Regions from separate parts of the Homo sapiens genome. Here region 1 is linked to region 2. Evidence: fine-mapped expression QTL. Tissue or cell type: whole blood. Region 2 holds a variant in brackets; the other region holds the start of a gene. All regions are shown on one strand. Distances are from middle to middle.

What was found. PIP is the estimated chance that this variant, and not a neighbour inherited with it, causes the effect.
Region 1: RAPGEF1 starts here. The variant in region 2 is fine-mapped to the expression of RAPGEF1 in whole blood (TOPMed, PIP above 0.99).

The regions. Positions count from the first base shown.
Region 1 is chr9:131,735,141-131,743,236 of GRCh38, reverse strand. RAPGEF1 (Rap guanine nucleotide exchange factor 1) reads left to right here and starts at 3,161. Exons shown (of 27, transcript NM_001377935.1): 1 at 3,161-3,467. The coding sequence starts at 3,407. RefSeq lists silencers at 2,938-3,197, 3,348-3,397, 3,448-3,777, 7,421-7,715 and enhancers at 7,421-7,715, 8,012-8,096.
Region 2 is chr9:131,589,176-131,597,273 of GRCh38, reverse strand. It overlaps RAPGEF1 (Rap guanine nucleotide exchange factor 1), which reads left to right. Exons shown (of 27, transcript NM_001377935.1): 17 at 901-976; 18 at 5,091-5,175; 19 at 7,296-7,388. Among named protein-coding and RNA genes, the nearest start is that of PRRT1B, 48 kb to the right of the region's middle. RefSeq lists an enhancer at 7,425-7,924. The variant T/A (reference allele first, on the strand shown) is at 4,270.

The sequences.
Region 1 (8,096 bases), 150 kb before region 2:
AGGGAACATTCTAGACAGCAGGAGCAGCTCATGAGAAGGTTCCAAGTCAGCCAGAACTGGGCTTTGGGAATCCGTTTGCTTCATTACCTTGTGTGTGTTCTACTATAGTTATAAACATCTTTGATGAATAGCCTTTATTAAGTAAGTTCTGTGACCCTGATTTACCATAATGTCCATTTGCAAAGTACTTTGTTGTTTGCAAATCTTTTGTCATTGGATATGTCATAATTTATTAAATATATTTGTGTTCTCACAAACCCCTGACTGCACCTAGTATCCATGCAGTCTAGTTTTCTACTTTTCAACCAGGATTTTGGATTTAAAATATCGGCTCTTCTCAGCTCAGAAGCCTAGAAGGGTTGGGGGCAGCATTGAGTGTGTTTTGGGGTTGGGCCTGGGACCAGGGGCCAGTTTTGCCTGGTAAGGCATCTGCCAAGAGGGCTGAACAGGGCCACCCTGGATCAGAGCATCCATTCATCAGGTGGAAGAGGGAAATGAATTTGTCAATCTTTGGATTTGCCTTTGACCTCTAGAGGGCTGCAACTGATGAAATGATGATGGGAAATTTGGCTGCCATCTATGACCATCTCCTTTTTTTTTTTTTTAAAGAGGGAGTCTCGCTCTGTCACCCAGGCTGGAGTGCAGTGGCGCGATCTTGGCTCCCTGCAACCTCTGCCTCCCAGGTTCAAGTGATTCTCGTGCCTCAGCCTCCTGAGTAGCTGGGACTACCAGCGCGCACCACCACGCCCGGCTATTTTTTGTATTTTTAGTAGAGATGGGGTTTCACCATGTTGGCCAGGCTGGTCTCGAACTCCTGAACTCAGGTGATCTACCCACCTCGGCCTCCCAAAGTGCTGGGATTACAGGTGTGAGCCACCACACCCGGCCTGACTAGCTCTTAGTTGTGGAATCGGTGACCCTTTAGACTGTCCAGGGAGATGGGAATAAGAATCTCTCACAACATTAGCAGTTTTTCCTCCTCCCTGCACCTCCCCCAAATCCTGTCCCCATCACTAGGTTATTTAATTTACTTATTTTGGGGGAAACAGGAGGGAAAACTAGCCCAGGTGGTGCGTGCTACTTCTTTGTATTCCATCTTAGACTAACAACAGGAAGCAGGCAGCAGAATTGCCCCACATTGGAACATCACTTGCGTTACTAATTTGTTGTTATTTACTACTTGTATTATAGGATTTAACTTTGACTTCCCAGCTAAGTTGTGAACTCTTTGGAGGGAAGCACCAATTGTGCCCACTTTTGTAGGGCCCACAGAACCCGAAATAGTGCTTAGACTTAGCAGATCCTTTGATTCTTAAATGACTTTTTTTTTCCTTTTTTTTTTTTTTTTTTTTAGCCAGGGTCTTCCTCTGTCACTCAGGCTGGAGTGCAGTGGTGCAATCATGACTCCCTGAAACCTCTGCCTCCAGGGCTCAAGTGATTCTCCCTCATCAGCCTCTCAAGTAACTGGGACTACAGGCAGGTGCCGCCGTGCCTGGCTAATTTTTGTATTTTTAGTAGAGACGGAGTTTCACACATTGCCCAGGCTGGTCTCGAACCCCTGGGCTCAAGTCATCCACCCACCTCAGCCTCCCAAAGTGCTGTGATTGCAGCCGTGAGCCACTGTGCCCAACCACGACTTTTTTTTTTTTTTTGAGACGGAGTCTCGCTCTGGAGCCACCAGGCTGGAGTACAGTGGCATGATCTCGGTTCACTGCAACCTCCATGTCCTGGGTTCAAGAGATTCTCCTGCCTCAGCCTCCCAAGTAGCTGGGACTACAGGCGTGTGCCACCATGCCCACCTAATTTTTGTATTTTTAGTAGAGATGGGGTTTCACCATGTTGGCCAGGATGGTCTCAATCTCTTGACCTCGTGATCCACCTGCCTCGGCCTCCCAAAGTGCTGGGATTACAGGCGTGAGCCACCGTGCCCAGCCACGACTTTTAATGAACTCATTTCCACACTAGAAAAGTTCCACAGCTGAGCCCCAGGGTGCCCTTCTGGATGTCAAATAAGCAGGGCAGGCAGGGTGTGCTGTGTCCCTGAGGGAGTTGGGCCCAGGCCAGCATGGAGGCTCTAGGCCTCAGGGGACATTTAGGCCTGAGTAGGGCCAACCCCAGCCCGGGACAGGTGGCTCTCGCTGGCAGGGTGACTGAGTCCCACATGCAGGGCTGGGGTGGAGAATGAATCCTCCGCCTTGGCATAGACCTTGGGCCAGCAGAGGGCTTTCATGCCAGAGTGGACTCATTCCCCGGCTGGAGCCTCTGGGCTGGCAGGAGGTGCTATGAGGCCACTCCCAGGCCCTGGTGTGGGGTCTCCAATTAAGAAGGGGGTGCGGGCAGGGTGCAGTGGTTCACACCTGTAATCCCAGCACTTTGGGAGGCCAAGGTGGGTGGATCATGAGGTCAGAAGATCGAGACCAGCCTGGCCAACATGGCGAAACCCCGTTTCTACTAAAAATACAAAAATTAGCTGGGCATGGTGGCATGTGCCTGTAATCCCAGCTACTCAGGAGGCTGAGGCAGGAGAATTGCTTGAACCCGGCAGGCAGAGGTTGCAGTGAGTCGAGATCGCGCCACTGCTCTCCAGCCTGGCGACAAAGTGAGACTCGGTCTCAAAAACAAAAAACAAAACAAAAAAGGGGGTGCTGCATCTCTGGTTTGGGGGAGGTCAGGACAGGCTCCCAGCCAGCAGAGCTTGTTGAGTCCTGGTGAGAGTGAGTTCTAGGCCCTGGTGTGGAGCCTCTGGCCCACAGGGGATGCTGGGTCCGGGATGATGCTAGGGTGGGGTGGGCGTCAGTTCCACGTCCTGGGGTGGAAAATCTGACCCAGGAGGGTTCTCTGTGTCTCTGGTGAGGGGGCAGGCCAGGCTCTTGGGCAACCGAGGACCCTGGGTTGGAGCTGTCAGTCCCAGGTCTGGAGCTGGTGACTCTGGTCCCACAGCAGAGGAATGCGGAGTCCCAGGCGGGGTCGGCCCCACACCCCAGGCCCCAGGCCCCGGCGTGGGGACTCCGGCTCGGCAGGGGGCGCTGCGTCTCGCGCGTCGCGCGGGAGGCTCGGGCGGCTCCGGGCCCACAGGGGGCGCTGTGGCGGCGCGGCGGGCGCCCGGCAGGTGGCGCTGTGGCCGTGGCCGCGGCCGAGGCCCGGCGGGCGGGCGGGCGGCGTCGCTGCGCTGCGGCCGGCTCGCGGGCCGGGGGAGCGGCGGCGGGCGCGCGGGAGGCGGAGCGGCGGCGGCGGGCGCGGCGGGAGCGGCTGGGCCCGGGCGGGCTGGAGCGCGGTCGCCGAGCGCAGGGCCGCGGCCGCGCGGAGCCCGCCATGCCGGCGCGGGTCTGAGGCGTGGCGAGCCAGGGCCGAGGCGAGCGGCGGGCGCGCCGCCCCTGTCGCCCCGCGGCGGCCCGGCCCGGGCCCGATGAGCGGCGGCCTCGGCCTCCGGCGCAGCCCGGAAATGTCCGGCAAGATCGAGAAAGCAGGTGAGGCGCGGGCGTGGGGCGGCTCCCTCCGGCCGGGCCCGGCCCTGGGGCTCCGCCGCTCCCCGGGCCGAGCGCGGGTCGCCCGGGATGTGCGGCCCTCCGTGCGCCGGGGCGGGGTGAAGCCACCGAGGCCTCGCCGGGGCGCCTGGCAGCTTCTCCTCCAGGCCCATTGCCTGCCGGGCGCGGGGGGAAGCGGCCGCTGCGGGGGCGCCAGGGGCCGGGCCGGGCGGGGCCCCTGCAACCCGGGGCCGGGCGCGCTAGCCGCTCCGCGGTCCCCGGGAACTTCCGAAAATGGCTCGAGCCCCAAGCAGGGGAAGAACAGCCCGGGCCGCGTGCTGCTGCGGCTGCAGCGATCGGTGCCCGGCCTGGGCTCGGCGCTAGGAGGGTGAACCCAGCTGAGCTGTAAAATGTGTCATTTCTAACGAGCTTCGAGTTTAACGAGAAGCGTCCACTTCGGTTGCTTCAAAGGAAGCAGGCTGGATGAGTGGGGGTATTTTGAGGAGGTAGTCAAGTTTCCCCTCCCCACCCCGATCAAGCTCAGCTCTGCAAGGAGGGCAGGTGGGGGACCGGTGGGTTGGAGTAGATGGTAAATCTTGATGCAGACCTCGTCTCTTTGTGTGTTCCTAGAAATCTGGGGGAGTTACCTTCCGAGTCCCTGGGTTTGCCTGTCCTGGAAATAGAGTCTCCAAAGATTCAATGACTGTCGAGCCTGTGGGGCCCCAGGCTTTATTAGCCTGCAGCACCTTGCAGGGCAAATGCGAATTCTTGGGTCTAAGGTGAAGTGGGCGGGTGCTCCTGGGCTCCTGTACTGGGAGCATGCCCTGTGGTCATAACCCCGGTAGCAGGTTAGCTTGGCGGCTGAATGAGGGAAAGCAGATTTTTAGGGAGCTGCAAAGGAGGTCTGTGGCTTTGATTGTGGAAGTTGCTTATGTTTCCTGGGTTGAATCTGGGATACTTCTGTGGGGTGCACCCCTGCAGCGGACCCACAAGGCAATATGACTTTTGCAGGCTGTGGTTGAAGCACAGAAGGACATTTTTGTAGGCTTTATTGAGGGTTTACTATATATCTAACTCTTAGCACCTAAAATGCATTGCTTCTTAAATTTTTGAAGCTAGTCTGTGGGAAAGAATATGGTCCCAGTTTTACAGGCTCAGAGAGGTTCAGTGAGTTCCGGCTGTCCAGACAGCAAGAGGGCGGCAGGCCCCTAGTATATTCATTCCTGGCCCTCTGACCAGAAGCCAGGGTGCTTTTCTCAGGGGCAGGGCGCTTGGGTTCAGGTGCCATTTCTTGAGTATTTTTCTCACTGAATTTGAGCCCCCACAGCCTTGCCGAGTGACCATGAGTCGCCATCCTGTACACCTGCTGCTCCAGAAATAACTTGGGTTCATCTGTGCAGCATTTCTCAGGAACTTCTTGTATAGTGTCTTGTCAGAACGGTACTGTTGGGAAACTTGGATAATTTATTTTAAAAAGAACATTCACTGAGTTCTTTTATAAGAACTTTATAATATATAAGATTATATTATATCTTTTTATATCTAATATAAGATTATATTATGTTTTATATCTTTATAATATAAGAATATTCTATGTTCATTGTCAAAACTTGGAAATCACAGAAAAGTAAAATGAACCGGATTGGAAATCATCTGTCAGCCAGGTACAGTGGCTCACGCCTGTAATCCCTGCATTTTGGAAGGCCAAGGCAGGAGGATCACTTGAGCCCAGGAGTTTGAAACAAGCCTGGGCAAAATGGCGAGACCTCATTGCTACTTTAAAAAAAATTTTTTTTTTTTTTTTTGAGACGGAGTCTTGCTCTGTTGCCCAGGCTGGAGTGCAGTGGTGCGATCTCGGCTCACTGCAAGCTCCGCCTCCTCCTGGGTTCACGCCATTCTCCTGCCTCAGCCTCCCGAGTAGCTGGGACTGCAGGCGCCTGCCACCACGCCTGGCAAATTTTTTTGTATTTTTAGTAGAGACAGGGTTTCACCGTGTTAGCCAATATGGTCTCGATCTCCTGACCTCGTGATCCGCCCACCTCGGCCTCCCAAAGTGTTGGGATTACATGCGTGAGCCACCGCGCTGGGCCTCTTTTTTTAAAAAAAGGAAAAAGTTGCCTGTCATCCCATGAGCTGCCCAAACCGCTGGGAATGAAATGACTCTTCATTTGAGTTCTCTGCTATTTGGGAGAAAGACCTGAGGCCAGTTCATTTCAGCATAGTTTGTCCTTGGGCCTTTTCTGGGCACCGCCTTCTGCTAGGGGGTTGTAGATGAAAGTGCCTGCTCCCAGAGAAGCTTGTCTAACCTAGCACAGTTTCTAAGCTACCCAGGCTGCCAGACCGAGCGACCGTGCTGCCATGGACACAGGTGAGAGAGGGGTGTCATGAGTGCGGGAATGAGGAAGACACTGGAGGGGACAGTGTTTGTGCTAGGCTCTGAAGAGAGGGCTGAGATATATACCTGGTGGAGACAGGGAGAAAGAGGAGAGAGGGGAAGGGGCTGACCAGGAGCTGCGGAAAGTGTGGGAGGAAGATGCATTTTGTGAGAAGCAGAAAAAGTAAGAGTTCTGAGATTGGCAAGACCAGGGTCAGGACCTCGCCTGCAGATTGGGGATTGCAGATGTGGAGCTGGCTGGAAGTCCAGCCTCCTTGCAGAAGGTCTTTTGCTGCAGTTCATAGGAATCATAGTGAAAGATTACAACTGCCAAGGAAGACTGGGGCGCGCCTGGAGTGAGGATGACCTTTCCTGGTGGTCTCTGCTGGCTATTCTCAGTGAACTTCCCTTTGCATTTAGACGACATTTTGTTAGATTTCTGTTGGAGTTTTTTTAATGGACTTCCCACTATTCAGTCTCCAGAGGAGTATTTGATTCAGAGGAGAGGCCCTTAGGTGAAGTGGTGGCAGAGCCTGACACCAGGCAAACAATTGTTGTGATTGGAGTTTTGCTGTTTTGTTATCTCAAAGCAACAGAAACGTTGCTTAAATATGTTCATAATCTCCTCTCCCTGAAAGTAGAAGAACCAGCGTTTTTAGTTCTCAGTGCTTAAGGCATCCAGGGTTTTTTGGGTAAACAGGAAACCCCTTCACATCCCGCATAGTGTGCAGCTCTGGCCTGTTCCTCATCCCGCCCCCTTGCATTGCCTGATACCTCCTTGGTGTGCAGGACTCTCCTTAACCCCTGGGGGAGATCTTTTGAGTCATTGCTGTTCTTTGGGACATTTTCTTTCTCATGCAGCAGTGCCTGGCTGGGGCAGGGCCTTGAGGGGTTCATCCATACCTATGTATATCCTCAGAGAATACACAAGGTCATAGGCCTCACATTTGGGGGTCCCAAGTGCCATGGGGAATCAAGACAGTCTGGGCCAGAGGGTGGCACAGGGACAACTTGCTGGGCTGGTGGGGGCCTGTCAAGTGAGGCCTGGTGGAGAAAGGTTGAATTTGGAGGGCCAGGAACAAGCTGGGATGCAGGGGAGGCTTTCTAAACTCTACAGTGCTTCTAGAGATGACGAGGAGGTAGGGAGTAGAAGAGAGCTGGACAGATTAGGGAGCTCCCAGGGTGAGCTTGTGGGCAGGCCTGCAGAGGAGAAGAGGCTCTTCCCTAGGAGCTCAGAGGGATTTGTTCTGGAAGACTGATGGGAGATGTATGCAGCTGTTTAGAGGCTGCTTTGGAGAACAAATGAACATGGTTCTGGTTGTGCAAGCAGTTACTGTGGTTCTTTTTGCTCATATATCTTCCAATAAAGACATTGAGCGAGGAGAGTTGATACCGTCATGTTTTTGGAGCTTAAGCACAGACTGGCAGCTGCGGGCTGGATTCAGTCCACAGATATGTTGGGTTGGATCCGCACGTGTTCTTGAGGAAAAAAACAAAAGAATTGATGGTCAATATTGAAAAATCAGGAAGTCACTCAAAAATCTCAAAAGCCTGGTTCCTGATTTCCTTGAAAAATGAGAATCTCTGGTAACTCTGAGCGCTTGTTCCTGCCTACAAGGCAGCTATGGGCAGGAGTCAGGTGGCGGACACTCCCACAGAGCCCCTCACCACTCCCACAGCCAGCCACACCTCCGACGGCCCACTTGGACTTTTGACATTTGCGTTTGCATCCCCTCCTCGGAGAAATGATTCATGTTTGTTTGTTTTTGTCTGGACTTTGAAACCTTTGCCCCATCCCTTCATTGACTCATTACTCCATCCCTCATTCATCAGGGATTGAGCACCGGCTCCATCAGGCTCCGTACAAGGCTCTGGGGACTCAGTGGTGAACTCAGCAGATGTCGTGCTGCCTGCCCTGAATACAGGCATCCTCTGTGTGTCACAGGGTGAGCAGGAAGGTGGCAAGAGATCAGACTTGCAGTGGGGAGGGATGGTCAGGAAACTCCTGTGCTCCTGTGACAAAATGGGACTTAAGGTGAGAGGCGGAGGATGGGTCCACTTAGCTGGGCACAGGCAGTGGGGTAGGGGACCAGTCTCCTGGGGTGGGAGCAGACCAAGGCCTCCTCAGCTGAAGGGAAGAAGGTCCTTGGACTGCATGTGTCAGTTTCAGTCACTCATTCCTTTCTTCCCTCCTTCAGTGGCTTCACTCATCGCCTGCCTCACGGAGCAACCTCCTGAGGGCCTGGAGTTGTTCTTGT
Region 2 (8,098 bases):
GGTAAACCCAAGACAATCTCAGGCCTCTGGAGTCAGGAGGTAAAATACCAAAGCCTAAAAATAAAAAGGTGGGCTAGTCCCGGAGTGTGTACCGCAGCTGAGAGGGCTGGTTCCGTCCCTCCAGCGTTACAGAGCAAGGAGCATTGAGGGCCAGGGGCAGAAACAGGCCTGGGGGGTTGTCCTGGACCTCTGTTCCTGGCCCTAGTCACAGCTCTTTTTGGCTCTACGCTGGGTGGCCTCTGTTTGCCCACATGGAAGCAAGACTTGCTTCTTAAGAGGCAGGTGGGTTGGTGGCAGGTGTGCAGCGTCAGAAGTCATTGAATATTTCTGTCTGTAATGCTTTGCTCTCCTTTAAGGAAGGGCCCCACAGAAGAACCTTGTGCCAATGCAAGTAACTTCTACTTCCACCTGGGGAGACGGATTTAGATGTAGGGCCGCTTGCTGCAGTTTTGGGGAACATGAACATGCTTAGAAATAGTCCTGCTGCCTCCACAGGCATCCTGGGCAAGGCTGGGGACTGTCTTGCCCCCAGGGGGTCCTACCTCACCTCTGACTTGTGGTTTGGTGAGCAAGGAAGGATGGAAGGTGCTATGTCCCCTGGCCCAAGTTGTGTGCTCAAAACAGTGGCATGCCCTGGTGCCTTGGTGCCGGGGCAGCTCCCAGGCCATCCAGCTCCCAGACACAGTCCAGTTTGTGCCTGTCACCAAGCACAAGGTGAGTCTGGAGGGCACCCCTGGCTTCGCAGCGCAGCCACACTGCTCCTGGGCCGAGGAGCACAGAAGGAGAGGGGACTTGGGGTTGCAGGGCATTTTGTCATCTCATTCCTGCCTGTTTCTTCCTAAACTGATTCTCTGAAGGGCATACTCTGCCTCATACCTTCCTTGGCTGTGTTCATTACAGGGTGATGACGGGCCGGACGTCCGCGGAGGATCTGGGGACATCTTACTGGTCCATGCTACTGAGACTGACAGGAAAGGTAGGGTGTCAGTGAGCTCACTAGATTGGGGCTGGTCCTGCCCCGGGTGCCACTCGGCCTCCCACCGCTATCCTGTCCCCTCCTGGCAGCCACAGCCCTGAGCAGGTCTGATCAGCAGTCCTGGTGCGCCTGAGTCAGAGCAGGGAGAGCCCACCTTGGAAGACAAGTAGATCATGTTCAACTCCAGGCGTGCGTGGCATCTGTCCTCCGCTGGTACAAGGTAGTGACCCCAGGGCCTCCAGGGTCCTTGAGGGGCTCAGCGCATACTAAGCGCACCACAGACAGCGCCTTGAGTGATGGCATGTCACCCAGTAGTACTAAACTTAAGATAACATGCAGGTACCTTTTGATTCCTTTCCTGACTGCTGAGTCACTCTATTGTTGCAGACCATTAGACCGGACTTCACTCACATACTCCACGAGGAAATTCTTGAAGGTTTGTTCTGTCCAGGAACCTTCAATTCTGTAGCAGTGGCCTCAGTTTCACAGCACACAGCTGCCCCACCCTACCACGCATTCAGTGTGCTGATTGAGAGGGCTGGAAAAGCAGGGACCGTCCCCTAATCCCTAAAACGTCTTGTTGGGTGGACTCTGCTAGCAAAGTCATTCCCAGTCATGCTCTGGAAAGGAGGTGCTAGTGACCTGATGGGGCATGGCCACAGCACCCTTCACTGCCTGCCCTCAAGGGGCCAGCACCACCTGGCCGGCCAGTCTCTCCACACGCTGCTTCTCTTTTTACGTTTAAAAAAATGATTTAAAAGATGATGTCAGAGCAATGGTGAAGTAAATTGTGGAGGGAATGAAAACACCCCCACCTTGAAATCCTAGCCCAACCCGTTTCATTTCTGTAAGGGACTCTGTCCCTGTGTTTCCTCAGCACGTTTCCCAAAACATGTGACCCAGAGTGACTCGGGGAATTTCTGAATTATGGAAGTAGTACTAAAAAATATTTACATTGCAGAAAATTAGAGAAAAAGAAGAGATGGCTCCCACAAACTCACCGCAGCCACTGCTCCGCCCTCCCCTTCACTGTTCCCTCACCCTTTGTTTGTTCTGACCAGGGCAGGGCCCAGACCTGGCGATGCTGCATCCTAGCCCCAGCTGTGCCATGACAGGCTCAGAGGGCCCCTGGGCAGTCCCCGGGCTTCTCGGCCTGAGCCGACTCCACTTGTTGAAGGGGTGAACGGTGCCTGTTGTTGTGTGGATTACGTGAGGGAGTGTGAAACCTGCCCCGCATGTCAGCGGTGCTGGGGGCGTGATCAGCAGCATCCTGAGCGCCGAGTGCAGCCCTTGCTTGGCTTCTCTGCAGTGAATCCCCCTCCCTGCCTGACATAGGGGGCTCCATACTCAGCCAGGCATGGGAGCGACTTTCATTTCCTTTTTGTCCACAGCGAGGGGCTGAAATGGGAGCTGGCTTCAGACCTCGGCTCCAAAGGGTGAACTCCACTGTCCTGTCGGGTACAGCCAGCTGTGGCCAAGGCTGGAGGGGTCCCTGAGACAGGACAGCCAAGAGGCTTCTGGCTTTTGCTGGCTGGACCTGCTGAGAGGACGCTCCGTGCCGGTGGGAGCTTTGCCTGATTTTACTAGCAGAAGGGTTGGAGGCTCCCCAGAACCAAAGTTTTACGTAGGAAGTATTACTGAGGCAGAAGCCATGGCTCCACTGGGAGGGTGAAGCACCCTGTGGCAGGTAACAAAGCAAGCTCCTTGGGCAGGTGCATCCTGCAAGCCAGAGACTGCACCAGCATCACGAGCAGCTGGGAGCCCCGTGGCTCAGGCCCGTGGAGCCCAGCCTGCCAAGCAGGGCTTGGCAGGGAGAGGCCGTGTGGGGGTGCTTTGTGGTTGCACGGCTCTGCTCTCAGGTGTCAGGACCTGCATGGGAGAAGGTCAGGTCAGCCTTGGCCTCAGGCCTCAGCTTAGATCCTGTCTATCCCTTGACAACTGTGTGCCAAGCCTGTCACTTAGCCCCGGAGCTTCCGATTCCTTAGGAGGAAAATGAGGGACAATTTCGGGGCCTTTTAGGGCTGTCTCAAAGACCAGGTGAGCCAGGGCGCACAGAGTGCTCAGGACCGCATCGAGAGTCCTGTGATCTCTAGAGGGGTGGCACAGCACTGCCCGTCCCAGAAGCCAGGCGCTGTCCCATCTGCCATAATCCAGGGCACAGCAGATGGGGGAGGGCTCTGGAATTGGGCAGACATGGGCGCCGACCCCGCCACATTGCTTGCGGGTGGTGTGGCCTCGTGCCTGGGCTCCTCCTCTCTCGGTAGGGTAACAGGACTCTGTCCTTGTGGGATTGCTCTGGGCATTGAAGGATGTGGCATATGTTCAAGGCATGGCCCAGTGCTCACCAGCGAGTCCCACGAAGTTGTCATGGCTACTGGCAATGATGCACCCGCAAAGGCCAGTTGACTTGGGCCCCTTCTTCCAGAAGCAGGTATGGGTCTATGCTGGTGCCATCTCTGCTTCCTTCCCCAAACTCTTTGAACAAAAATCCAAGCTTGACAGTGAACTGGGTGGGTGTGGGGGCCGAGGAATGAGCCTGAGCACAGTGCGGATGGGCCCTGCTGTGATTCCCAGCCCGGAGCCTCCTTCACCTGCCAGCCCCACCCCACGCAGCCCCCAGTGCAAGAGCAGGCGTGGGTTTTCCTCTCGTTTGATGCAAGAGGGGATGGGGCAAGGGTGGGGGCAGGAGCCAAGCCAGCATGACTCAGCTGGAGATGTGGGTTCCTCGAGATTCCTCTACCCAGCAGCTCGGGAATGAGGGAGAAGGTGGGAGCAGGTGGTCTATGTCCAGAGCACAAGATTTAAGCAGTGCGTGTTTGCACCCAGCCTCACAGTGAGAAGCACAGCTGCGGAGCCTCCTTGGGCCTCACACCTCAGCAGGCACGGGGGGTGGCTGCAGGGAGTGAGTCTGGCCACCCGTTGGCTCAGGCAGTGTCCTACATTTTAAAATTCCACTTCATTCTGTAATATCAGAGACAGCACAGTTGAGAAGGTGTCACCACAGCAAATAAATAGGGCTGTTGTAATTCTGGAAAGTCTGGGAGTCCCTGACTGGTACCAGCCCCCTCTAAGAGGAGGCAGGCATGGAGAGGTGAGGGGTAAGCTGGAGCTGCCAGCCCACACCTGCCCAGTGGCTGGCACCATGCCTCTCCTTGGTACCCGGCCCAAGCCGTGCCTCTTCAGCCTATCCCTTAGGACCCAAAACGTGGAATTTCCCCGGATTTTTCTGATTGGACCCTACCATCTAAAAGTACTGACCAGGCACGGTGGCTCACGCCTGTAATCCCAGCACT[T/A]TGGGAGGCCAAGCTGAGTGAATCACTTGAGGCCAAGAGTTTGAGACTAGCCTGGCCAACATGGTGAAACCTTGTCTGTATTAAAATCAGCCAGGCGTAGTGGCGCGTGCCTGTGGTCCCAGCTACTCGGGAGGCTTGAGGCAGGAGAATCACTTGAACCCAGGAGGCAGAGGTGGCAGTGAACCAAGATCGCACCACTGCACTCCAGCCTGAGTGATAGAGTGAGACCCTGTCTCGAAAATAATAATCATAATAAAAATTTAAAAATAAAAGTAAAGCCTAGGGTTTCATTTCAGGATCCTGCTGACGGGTTTGAACAGACGATTTTCTTTGTTCCCATGATGGCTGAGACCCTCTGAAGCATAAAGCCTTAGGACAGGCAGAGCCTCTCAGAGTCTAATCCAGGGCTGGCTCCTACCTGGAACAGGCATGCCACCGGGTTTTGATGCCTAGGGCAGGCGTCACTCGTCAGCCTAAGTGCCCTTTTCCGCTGGGACCAGAGTTGGCCTCAGCTCCCACAGCACGGTTCTCCAGGCAGCACCATCATCGGTAGAAAGTGCCCATGAGATAAAACCCTTTCCTGTTTCCCCTCTCTGATCTGCCGTTTCCTTTGAGAGATGGACAGAGAGGACGTGTGACTTCTCTGGGACATGCAGGCGGAGACACCAGAGGGGGTTCCCAAGCCCTCGGCTCCCTCGCCCATCCCACTCCCCGTGCCATCTCCCCTGCCTCTCTCAGAGCAAGGACTCAAATCCACCCTGGCTACCACCCCCCAGCACTCTGCACCCAGACAAGCAGTTTGCATTGTTTTTTCCCTCTAGATTTGGTGTTGTACTGCGAGGCATTCCTGACCACCTACAGGACCTTCATCTCCCCAGAGGAGCTCATCAAGAAGCTGCAGTACAGATATCCTTTCCTTCCTGACCCAGGGCCCCTGCACCATGGGCATTTTGGAGAGAGAGGGACCCTCTTGCCCTTCAGTCCTCGTGGGGGAAGCCGAGCAGCATATTGGGTGGCAGTGTGATTGAAGTAGGGACACAGGAGCCCCATGGACCGAGGTTCCCACCTCTACCCTCCCGCATTCCAGCTTTGAGCTCAGGCAAGTTCCTCATCTCTAAAAGGGCCGAGTGAAATGATGTGAAGAGGCTGGAACATAGTCTGGGAATGTGTGTCTGGTGGCAGTTGTGGTCATTGGATGATTCTAAAAACGAATTAGACATGCCCCAGACTGGGAGGGGTAAGTGTGCCGGTCCTGCAGACGCCTCTGAGAGACCCTCATGGTCGGCTCCGGCAGCTTCTCAGAGCTGAGCCCCAGGGCGTTGGGCACGAAGGATACCAAGACCCAAATAGACAGCTCAGGGGTCAGCACAGTCACCTTCCCTGGAGCGGACCCTGCGACTGCCACATCCACAACTGGAATGGGCTCCTGTCCCCAGATCTACCCCATGGGCCCACCCTCAGTAAATGTCACCCTCTGCAGTAGTGGCTGAGGAGGACCCCAGGGGTTTGGAAGGACCCACTTGTGTGACCCATTGCCTCTTCAAGTCCAAACCTGCCCATCCTAAGAGGCTGACCTGCAGCTGCTGCTCTAGGAGGGTAGCCTGGGTCAGCTGCTCCTCAGCCACCTCTTTGCACATAGCCCACGGCTGCCATCTGCTGGGCAGCCACCACCACCTGGGGTAGGAAGTCCTGAGTCCACCCGCGCCCCCGCTCCTTCCTGTGTGCCCTGAGCCTTCACTGCTCCACTCAGGGCCTCCTGCAGACCTCCTGGCCTCCTATTCTCCCCTCGTGTTGACCTTTAGAATCCCTGATCTATCAAGACAGACGTGGACATCCTCCATTGGCGGAGCCTCGGGTCCCCGGCAAGTTCTGTTACTCAGAGCACCTGCTCACAGGCCTGACTCAGTGAATGGCTGTCACTCACACGTGTCAAGGACTTGCTGGTCAGGCGAGATGTGCTTTACACCTGTGCTTTCACCTAGCCCTAGCTCTATGACCATTTTTTAATATGTGTGTGTGGGTGTGTATAAAATTACCATATTATACATGGGGCCACTGCTCTATAACTCCCTATTGTGTAATTGAGGAAACCGAGGCCCAGAGACATGAAGGACCTGACCCATGTGGCTGCTTGGTGGGAGAGCAGCCACACGCTGCTTGCCCCCTGCTGCCTGCGCCCAGGCTCTCAGCCTCTGCCTGGCTCAGCCATCATGGAAATATTGCAGCATCAAGGTCTGGGCCTGGTTGGCTGGCGACCCCTGTGCTGTGGGCCAAGACACAGTCCCTGGTACGTTGCTCTGTCCTGAGCCCCATGACTTGGAAGGTCGTGGATCACTAGAGAGCAGGCAGGAGGGTGTCAGAGAGATCTGGGGAGTCGATGGCGAGCACAACAGCCGGGCAGGAAACCCTGACCACAAAGCAGAGCCCGACCTCAGGGCATGAGCTAGAGCTGATCGGGTGCTTGAAGTGCTGCCCTGGAGACAGGGAGCCAATGTGGAGCGTGCTGCAGCTCTGGGAAGAGAGACCCGGCCCGGTGTCACGGAGGTGAGAGTTCCCTTGCAGAGCCCAGGGAGGCAGCCTCAGGATGGAAACTCACAGAAAGACTGGAGGGAGATACTTCTGGCCTACACACCTGCCTAGGGACCTGGGGTTTGGAGGGTGTTTGGTTTGGGCCCACCGTTCTCTACCTAAAGTTCAGCAAGGCACTCTCTACGTGTCTGTAATCTCATGGGCACCTCGGGGTGAACCCGATGGAAAGGCGGGTCTGGACAGTGCAGCGGAGATGGCGTGGCAGGGAGGAGAGGGCAGCAGCCGGGGGCATCCCTGGGGACAGACGCCTGTGCTCAAATCCTGGCTTTGCAGTTGTTCCACTGCGCTAGTCCCGTGCCCTCGTTTCTGGATGCCAGTGCTTTACATGCAGGAAGATGGGCACATTGTGAGCGCTCAGTGAGTGGTCACCAGGAGTCAGTCCTCCACTCCACCACCCTCAGCCGACCACATGGCTATTTCTTTAACCCGTGCTCCACATATGAGAAATTCTCTCCCTTTGCCGACACATTCAAGAAGCGCGTCAGCAAGAACACGTTCTTCGTGCTGGTACGGGTGGTGGATGAGCTCTGGTGAGTGCTTCACCCTTGGGGTCCTGGGGGCCAGTGGGGAGGCAAAGGCTCCATTCCACCTGCTTCTCCTGCCCATCGGCTCTGGGCAGAGCTGGCTCTTGCCTGCTCTATCTTGGTCCTTTGAGAGAATGGCCTGTGCCCGATAGACCAGGGTGAGATGGGTGAGGTGTCTCTCCACCCTGCACCCAGGCCCTGGATTTCCTCATGAGGTCCCTCCTGGACCCTCAGGAGAGAACCCGCCCAACGCACCTGCTCCCATGGTATCTTAGGTCCAGTCTCCAGCAGGCCGTGCTCTCAGCCGCCAGCCATGGTGGAGGCTGTGTGGAGGCTGGAATGGGAGAGGCCACCTCTCCCTCGCTCCTCAGTGTTTCCATGGCTGGCCATCTGACAGCATGGCACTTGGCCATATCCGTTCCGCTAACAAATCTCCATCAGGCGGACTGCCTTCCTCCTGCTGGGGGAGATGACCATGGTAAGTGGCTGTGCGGCTGGGAAATGGCCACGTGTGGACAGTGCTCAGCAGGGCAAGTTGGGGAGCATCTAGTCTGAGAGGCCGGGAAGTCTTGGTGTCTCATTGCCCAATGGGAGCAGCAGCTCCCCAGGGCGGGATTCGTGTAGGACTTGTCCCTGCAGCCCAGGCCCCAGCACAGTCACTGGCGCTTGTCCAGCGCCAACAGATGGCTGTTGAGTGTGTGGCAGGTGCTTGTGAC